Linked DNA regions of Homo sapiens: region 1 is linked to region 2. Evidence: fine-mapped expression QTL. A gene starts in region 2. The other region holds a variant in brackets. All regions are shown on one strand. Distances are from middle to middle. Region 1 overlaps CCM2 (CCM2 scaffold protein). Region 2 holds the start of CCM2 (CCM2 scaffold protein).

Evidence for each region. PIP is the estimated chance that this variant, and not a neighbour inherited with it, causes the effect.
Region 1: its variant is the best candidate, but not a certain one, in a credible set for the expression of CCM2 in whole blood (INTERVAL, PIP 0.90).

Annotation. Positions count from the first base shown.
Region 1 is chr7:45,072,468-45,076,852 of GRCh38, reverse strand. CCM2 (CCM2 scaffold protein) reads right to left here. Exons shown (of 10, transcript NM_031443.4): 7 at 4,070-4,127; 8 at 3,282-3,393; 9 at 2,445-2,583; 10 at 400-1,076. The coding sequence ends at 796. Among named protein-coding and RNA genes, the nearest start is that of NACAD, 14 kb to the left of the region's middle. RefSeq lists a cis regulatory region at 2,363 and enhancers at 2,279-2,448, 3,046-3,705, 3,706-4,365. The variant T/C (reference allele first, on the strand shown) is at 2,228.
Region 2 is chr7:44,998,088-45,002,472 of GRCh38, reverse strand. CCM2 (CCM2 scaffold protein) reads right to left here and starts at 2,272. Exons shown (of 10, transcript NM_031443.4): 1 at 2,110-2,272. The coding sequence starts at 2,139. It overlaps LOC102723334 (a long non-coding RNA gene), which reads left to right and starts at 2,465. Exons shown (of 4, transcript XR_428139.4): 1 at 2,465-2,755; 2 at 3,100-3,193. RefSeq lists silencers at 1,796-2,325, 2,956-3,005.

The DNA.
Region 1 (4,385 bases), 74 kb before region 2:
GGGGTAGTGCAGGCTGCTTGAGGAAAAAACCTGCAGCATGGGGTTGGGGGGAGGGGGGGTGCGGGGCACAGCCAGTGACCTTGAAGGATTCAGTGCACAGGATGTAAAGATCAAGGTGCCCCCAACACATGCCACACACGCTACCCTCACACACGCTGCCCACGAAAGGCCTCAGAACACCCGCTCCTGCCCCACATCCACACTGCTCAAGTCCAAATCAAGTCCTTCCTGTGGCACAAGAGCCTGTTGCCTCCTCCACCCCAGCCCCCAGGGACCACTGCCGAGTCCCAGGTGCTGCAGGGCAGATGGGGACCCAGGGACAGAGGCTAGAGCGGACACCCCTCCTGGCACCGATGGCTTTCACCCAACTGGATCAGAAACATGCTTGGCAACCAGAGATTAAATTATTCACATTGCAGTAAACTTCTTTTTAAGGTCTCTGAGAGTTACAATAGGAACATCATGTGCAAAACTGACAGCCGTCCAAGGGCCCAGCCGACAGGACTGGCTCTCCCTGCCCGCTCGGCCGGGCCCTCCCCGAGCGGGGACACACTGCAGGGCTTGGCTGAGCCCTGGTGGACAAGGCAAAGAGCCTTCCACCCCGCACTGAGGCTCGTGTCCCTCGGCAGCTCCCTGCTCCTTCACAGTAGAGGACCTGGGCCGCCCGGGGCCATCTGCACCGGGCGCCTCTCCCTGGCCACCACCAAGGGCTGACACGCAGGTCTGGGCAGCTCCTTCTGGGAAGGCCTATGACGACTGCGCGGAAGGTGTGGGTGCCCCCCCATCCACTGTCCATCATGCTGAGTCCTGGTCCATGCTGCAGCCCAGCGCCTCAATGTCGCTGCTGATGTCCGAGATCATGCGGTCCCACTCATCCCCCTCTGAGGGTGCCGACCGGTCATCAGAGCTGCCCGTGGCCCTGTTCCCATTGGTGGTGGAACTGGATGTGGTGCTCAGGGCCCGCCGGTGCCTGCCAAAGCTGTCAGTGATGATGCCGCGGCCATCCTTCACGCCAATGGTCTCCAGGAAGTTCTCGAAGTGCTGGCTGTCCTTCTCAGGGATGAAGGGCCTCAGACCTGCAGACACACAACACCCAGCATGGCACCTCCAGTTCGGCTCAGCCCACTCAGCTCTTCTCTCAGGGCTCAAAGCCCCCTGACAGGGCCACAGCTGCCCCTGGTGCATGGCCTTGGGGACCCTGATGCCATGCTCACTGCATCTAGCATCCTGGTTGAAATCATGCTTCCTGGGGCCAGACAGTTTGGCTAAAACCTCAACTCTTGACAGACACTGCTGCTGGCCCTGACAGCTTACTGCCTCTGCCACATGCACACTCCCTGGCCTCAAGGCACCAGCACAGGCCAAGAACCTGTGGCCTCCTCTCATTCTCTATTAGTCCTCACAAAGGACCCATTTTACAGTGGGGAAAGCTGAGGCCCAGAGCAGTGCTCAAAGCCACCTGCTGGCACCCGGCAACAAGGGTGCAGTCCTCAGAGGCAGGCCTCATGCCAAAGTCCAGTTTCCCTGCCATGACCTAGGTGACTGTCCCAACTCAGAGGGCTGCCCTCTTATTTGGGAAGCCTAGTGTGTCTCTCAGAATCTCTACTCCCCGATGTGGAGGGGCAGACAGAGTCCCATGCCAGGAGGCAACGCAGGGCCCAGCACAGAAGGGGCAGGCACTGCTTAGACAGAACCTATTGTACAGACAGGCTGCCCCAGCCTCCAGCCCTTCACGCTCCTAAGAGCGGGGAGCCCTGGGCAGGCAATCCACGTTTGCCACTGCCAGGTCGGTACGATGGTTAACAAACCCACCTTCCTTGGTTTGCAGGGAAAACAGGCCAGGACCCAGAAGCCTTCAACTGGCTACTAGCAACACATTACCGCAAACTTGCTGTGTTCTAAGTGTCGGCAGAGGGAAACCACAGCTAAGTCACCGCCCCTGAGAGGTGTGGGGCCAACATCCAACTCTGCTGCTCAGACCACACAGCCCTCTAGCCGCACTGACCTAATGTGCCGAGCATTTTAGGGGTCTTGGCAAACGCTGGTCCTTCCGCCTTGAAGTCCTACACATTCACCAAAACCCATGCCTCTCTGGCTCCTCCAGCACTGTTTTCCTAAATCTCAGGGTTGTGTTCACTCCCAGCCCTGCTCCTGGGGGATCTCTGCTACTTCCTGGCAGGGCCCACCCAGCTCAGCTTGAGTTCCCAGGAGAATGAAGGCCTGTCGG[T/C]GGGCCCCCAACAGTACCTGGGAAAAGCCCTTCTGACTAATCACAGCAGATTCCCCGATCTCTGGACTCTGCTCTCATGCCATCTCTGGTTCAAATCTCCCATCCCTGATGGAGCCCCTGCTGCACCCACTGAGGGGTCCGTGTGCACATTCCCAGGAGGGATCAGCCTCTCCAAGCCAGGTTTGGACAAGCCACCCTCTTTCCAGGGCCCACTCACCAAGCAGCAGGAACTTGCGGCTGTCCCCGTAGAGCTGCCGCAGGTTGATGCAGAACTCGTGGATAGAGGCCCCATTGCGGTACTCGTGCAGCAGTGCTGCAAACTGCTGGATCTCCTGTGATGACAGCTTGGTGCGCAGCTGCAAGAGAGCAGAGCCAGATAGGGGGCTGGGCACAGTAGGCAAGAGTCGGCAGTCGGGCCCACCTTGCCACAGCCACTAACCCCAGCCAGAGCACCAGCTGTCTCTGGCTTCACCTCTGCACAGGCTGGGGCATCAGAATGACCACAATGTGTCCCCATCCTACCAGACCTGGCACGGGGCCACCCAGAGGAGACCAAGGCACCCGGGCAGCTCCACTCTCCTGAGCTGGAACACAGAGTGCATGGGAGGGACAGGAGCCAGCAGGGCAGGGTGGAAGTTGGCAACCTGGCCCGGGGCCAATGCCTGTGCCCTTAGGCTACACACAGGCACACAGGCAAATCAGGAAGACTTGAGTTTGCAATGACAGAACTATATAAGATGGGGAGGATAAAAATGTCTGGCCATGTGGCCTTGCAGGGGCCACCGTTCCCTCCCCTCCCCCAGGACCCAAGCACAGGCCCACAGTCCAGCCCTGACGGCCACAGCACTCCCAACTCAGCCCCACTGACTGATGCTCTCCTAGACTATCCCCAGGAAAAGGCAGTGATGTCAGCAAAATTGACCAAGAGTGCTCTAGGTGACCTCACTCACTGCAGCCTGCCCTGCACTGCTCCTCCTCCTCCTCCCCTTCCCCCCATCCTCCCTGGGGCACCCCCTCCCTCATGCAGCCCAGCGTCCCTGCAGCGGAGGCCTACCGTCAGCATGTAGTCCTGCAGCAGCTCAGTGGCGCTGGCGCTCAGCTCGCTCTCACTGATGGTCTTGCTGTGGGGTGATGCACCACCCACATCCACAGATTCAGGGAAGCAGCTGCGAAAGAATGTGGTATGTGAGCGGGTGGCTTCCCCGACCCTCCATCCCACACACGTTTCAGGAAACCTAGTCCATGCCGTGTGTGTGGGTCCCTGTCCTTGAACAGAGGAATGTAAGTGATGATGATGATGATGAGAGGAGAGCTGACTGGGCATGCAGGGTGGTCAGCTTGGCCTGGTCCTGGGGCTCCCCGGGGGCATGGCTCTGAGTTGGGCTCTGAGTGAAGAGAGGGAGTACACAGGTCAAGGCAGTGGGCAGCATTGTTGGGCAGGGGAAGGAGCCAGGGTTGGGGAGGTGGCAGGAATGGAGAGCGCGAGTGGGTGAACTACTACAGAGCCCCAGGTGGTGGCAGAGATGGGCTGGAAGGCCAGCGCCTCGGCAGGCTCGGGCAGGGGAACAGCTCCATCCAACATGCCTATTACAAGCTCACTCTTGGGAGGCCATGGGAAGGTAGGCAGGGAGAGACAAGAGGGACAGCAAGGGCTCTAGAAGTCTACGAGGAGAGGGCGGCGAGCCAGGCCTCAGCCATTCACTAAGCTGGGTACAGTGGGTCTGGGGATGGCTTAGCGAGGGTGAGCTGAGATGGGGGAGCTGACTGGCTGCAGCCTGGACAACACCAGACAACGCATTTGGTGCGTGTCCCACCGCAGGGCTTGGTGGCATGTGCACTCACAAAGTGCTGGCTTCCACCTCGTAGGTCTCCTTAATGTCCACTTTTGTAGAAGAGTCATCTGTAAGGAAGATGCAGAAAACTAAGATGACTTTCAGGGACATAGTGGGGAGGCATTTTGAGTCCAGCCCACTGCTGTATTTACAGGAGACAGCGGCAGCCCTGGTCTTCAGGGACCCTGCTGTCCTTCATCAAGCTGCCCGCACTCTGGAATGTGCTGTGTGCCTCAGGGCAGGGCTTCCCAGACTTGAGCCCACATACACCCCTCCTGGGGATCCTGGCAAATGCAAATCCTGCTGCACGCTGGGCTGAAGTACAC
Region 2 (4,385 bases):
CTCAGCCTCCCAAGTAGCTGAGACTATAGGCGAGCGCTGCCGCGCCTGGCTAATTTCTGTATTTTTTGTATAGATGGGGTTTTGCCATGTTGCCCAGGCTGGTCTCGAACTCCTGAGCTAAAGTGATCGAGCCTTGGCCTCCCAAAGTGCTGGATTACAGGCGTAGCTACCATACCCAGCCTAATTCTGCATTTTTTGAAGAAGCTAACTTAGAAGAATTTAAGCGTCCAAACTGTACCTTCATAAAACTATTGTCAGCACTTCTGCTACTTATGTCTGAATTTGTGTATAAGTTTAGAGCAATGCAATTTACCTTAATGAGAATGATTTAACCACCGAAGTTATTAAACTGGAGGTGATCTCACATTGAATGTGGTAGCTGAGCAGGAAGGTTCTGCCAGCTTGCAACTGGCAGAGTACACGAGGTAGTGTTAAGTCATGACCTGGAGAAGAATCCATGCCCCAAAGCTCCTTGTCTGGCTTGTCTACAGGAAACAAGCTAAGACAAGTGGCAGAATACAGAAAAAACACAAAACCCCTGGCTTAAGCAACTACATAACAACTGATTATCTCCTCTAGTGAGAAAATGAAATTAATAATTAACCTGTTTATGCCTAAATTTTTTCATTACCCAACTGGAAAATTCTTGATAATTTTACTGTTTTTTCACTTGTACCCCAAAAACAGTCTTACTGCTTCTCTCTCTCTCTCCCTATTTGCTGGGTGTTTCATGTTTCTACCAAAGCTGATAGACAGCTCTAGAAAAAAAAATCACTCAATTCCATCCTTGCCTATCACACACAGGTAGATGGGCCAGGTACTCCTGTAAGCGGTGCACAATGAGGTCATCAGTCCTTAGCGCGCTCTTGGATCCCGGCATTCCACAGAGCACATGGCTCACTTTCCGCAAAGCTCAGCATCATCCACACTCGGGCCTGATGGTCCCTACTAAGCAGCCACCGGGTTAGCACCTCTCCTTTCCAGCTAACTCCTTTTACACTGCTTGGCTCCTCCCTCTTCTGTGCGCAGCACGCATCTCTAATCTAACACCTGCAGGCTGAATCACTATCTTGAGCTATTTTCCAGACTTAAAACATCTTTGTAGATAACCGCAAATTATACTGCACCTAAATTAGACATGCATGGTGCTAACATGAAACAATGAGTTGAGAAAGTAGAGAACCAGCACCACAGGACTCCCTGAAGGCCACCTGGCTACATTCTATTTCAAACAGGACTTTTAAATGGGGCACTCTGTCAAACAAGGTGGTGAGTAGCTGTCAATTAAAGGACACTTCCCTGCAGAGTTCAGGGTAGTAAAATCATAGTTAGGAATTATCGAGGTCTGCTTTAAACTTGTGGATAAAAGTGCGCACACACACATCAAAAAGAAAATGATAGCCAAGACGTGAAGATTATAAAGCATTTATTTGAAAAAGATACATTTTATTAAAATCCATTTTCCACTTTAATGGTAGTTCAATCCACATCGTTTTTCCAGTCTTAAAATGTTTCTTTATCGACTACTATAACCCTTTACTGTAATTAAAGCCACATTTTGTAAAACTACATAAACTGGGGTTTGACTATGAACTATGTCCTAAATCCCACTGCCAAATGTAGCTAGCGTCACTAAAATCAATCAATGGTTTTAGGTCTGAGTGATAGTGGACGAGTGAGCTGGCCATAAGGTGAAGGCCACCCTTGCTTTTACTGGATATCCAAAAACGAAGTCCAGTGAGCAGCAAACGTCTCCACGTTAACCACACAGCCCACTAGCTCCAGTTCCAGCCCTGGACAGCTTTCTGGCCCCTCGCCGGGCCCACTTCCTCTGCAGCCCCAGGTCCCGACGCGCAGGGAAGGCCGTCTGGGGCCGAGGTCGGGGCGAGCCGCTGCCCGGGCCAGAGGAAAGGCGCGGCGCTTCCTGCCCGCCCGGCCGCGAAAGCCCACCTGACCATTGTCCGGGGTCTCGCCCTGCCCCGCCCCGCCCCGCCAGCTGGCCCACTGCCCCCCCCCCCGGGCCCCAAGGAACACCCGCCCACCCCACCCTGGCCCCTCAACCCAGCCGCCCGCCGACCACAGCAGTAGGACGCCCCCGCGCACGCTCACCTTCTTGCCCTTCTTGCCCTCCTCTTCCATATCGCCGCGTGCGGCTCCCGCGGCCCGCCCGGCCCGCCCCGGGAGCCCCGCCGCCAGCAGCCGCTACATGCTCGACCCGGGCCCGCCGCCCCCGCGCTCCCGGCGCCGCCCGCCAGCCGGGCCCGAAGTCTCCGCCCCGGCCGCGCCCCACACCCGCACTTCCGGGCCCGAGCCCCCTCCGCCCCGCCCAGGCCCCACCTTCCCCAGCGCAGGCCCCGCCCACGGTTGTCGCTCATCCTCACTTTCAGGCCCAAGGGAATCCGACCCGCAGCGATCAGACCCCGCCCCTTCAGGGAGAACACGGCCCGTTGGCCCCGCTCACGGCGAGAGCACCGCCCACAGGCTGAAGATCCTGCCCCTTCAGGACGGCCGAGAACGCGCCTGCCTTGCACCACCCCCACCCCGCCCCGCGTCCTTCAGGAGAGCCGGAAACGCTCCTACCCCTACTTCGCTTCTGCACGGCCGCGAGAACGCACCTGTCCAGCCCCCTGTTCGCTCCGCCCACTCAGCGCGCGCGGGAGCGCGCGCGGGAGCAGCTCCAACTTTTTCAATTTGCCGCCATCTTTACGGCGGCCGACTTCCCAGCCTGCCTCGCGTCCAGGGAGGCGGAGCTCAGGTCTCTGAAAAGGGGACGGGGGGCGGGGGACGGGGGACGGGGGCCGGCGGGAGGGGACGCGGCCGGCAGATGGCGAAGGAGGGGCGCGAGGAGGCGGCCACTGTTGAGGGGCGGGGCGTCCCGCCGAGAGTCTGGGTGCGGTGCGGTTTTCTTTTTTCTTGTGTCCCACTTTATTCCCTGAGCCACAGGGAATCCGTTTTCTAGTACTTCTCTGTTATAAAGTCTGCCTGCCTTAGACAAACACATTTGGAAAATAGAAGTGCAACCACAAGGATGTGCAGACCCTATCAGAATAAAATCGTAGAACCTTACCAGTCATCCGGTATAATTTCCACATTTTCCAGATGAGGTCCGGGGAATGAGGTGATTCGCCCAAAAGCACACTACAAATTGGAGTCACCAGCAGGTCTGCTATTTTGCCACTAAACCAATCTGCCGGTAAGAACTTTGTAGCACAGCTAGAATGTAAACTGTGTTTTTTTGGTGGTTTTTTTTTTTTTTTGAGACGGAGCCTTGCTCTGTCGCCCAGGCTGGAGTGCCAGTGGCGTGGATCTCGGCTCACTGCAAGCTCTGCCTCGCGGGTTCACGCCGTTCTCCTGCCTCAGCCTCCCGAGTAGCTGGGACTACAGGCGCCAGCCACCACACCTGGCTAATTTTTGTATTTTTAGTAGAGACGGGGTTTCACCATGGTCTGGATCTCCTGACCTGGTGATCCGCCCACCTCGGCCTCCCAAAGTGCTGGGATTACAGGCGTGAGCCACCGCGCCCGGCCTAATAATTCTTTATATTAAACTTTTCTTTACTGTGTTTCTGTCTCCTGACTGGGCCTATGTTATACTGATATTCAAAAGAAATACTTGGTCTCTAGACCTCTCCAAAGGCATAAGTATTCCATTCTCTGCAAGATAAAGCAGAGATAGTGGAAACACCCTTTCAATCTGCCTTCTGCAATAATCCAGCTTGCCACATTTACACACGCAAATGATGTAGCGCATCTGGTTGTCATTATTTTCCCACCATTCACAGAACAAAGGCCTGATATTTAAAGTCTTCCACCGTCTTCCACAAATGCATATTTATCACTCCATAATACAGTAAACAACACTACTAAAACTTCTCTTAGCCTAACTCTGGATGTGCTGACTTCCTCAGGCTGTTCTTATCCATCAGAATACCTTTGCCCTGTCTTTGCATACACAGGTTCATGCTTCAAGCAAAAGTCCACTGGCTAATGATCAGATGGTGATAACTGGGAATAAAGACAATAAAATGAGAAAAGCAAAAAGGCTGTTAGCTTGCTATAACAAGGGAGTCAGCCACCATCATTTGTATTTGGATGAGACTCAATGTCAGGCAGAGGAGTGGGTAAGCTTTATAGTGAAAAAAGGGAAGCCTCCAGGGATGTCCTCATTTGAGGCTGTTGGCCTGGGGAAGCAAGGGGCAGGGCATCCCAAGTGATTGGTTAGGGGCACATATTTGTCTTTCTCTGGTTGCTCCTAAGCTGGAAGCAGGACCGAAAACTAGGAAAGCTGCCAGTTTTTTTTTAATTGACAAATAATTTTTTGTTTCTTTTGTATTTTTAGAGATAAAGTCTCACTCTGTCCTTCAGGTTAGAGTGCAGTGATGCAGT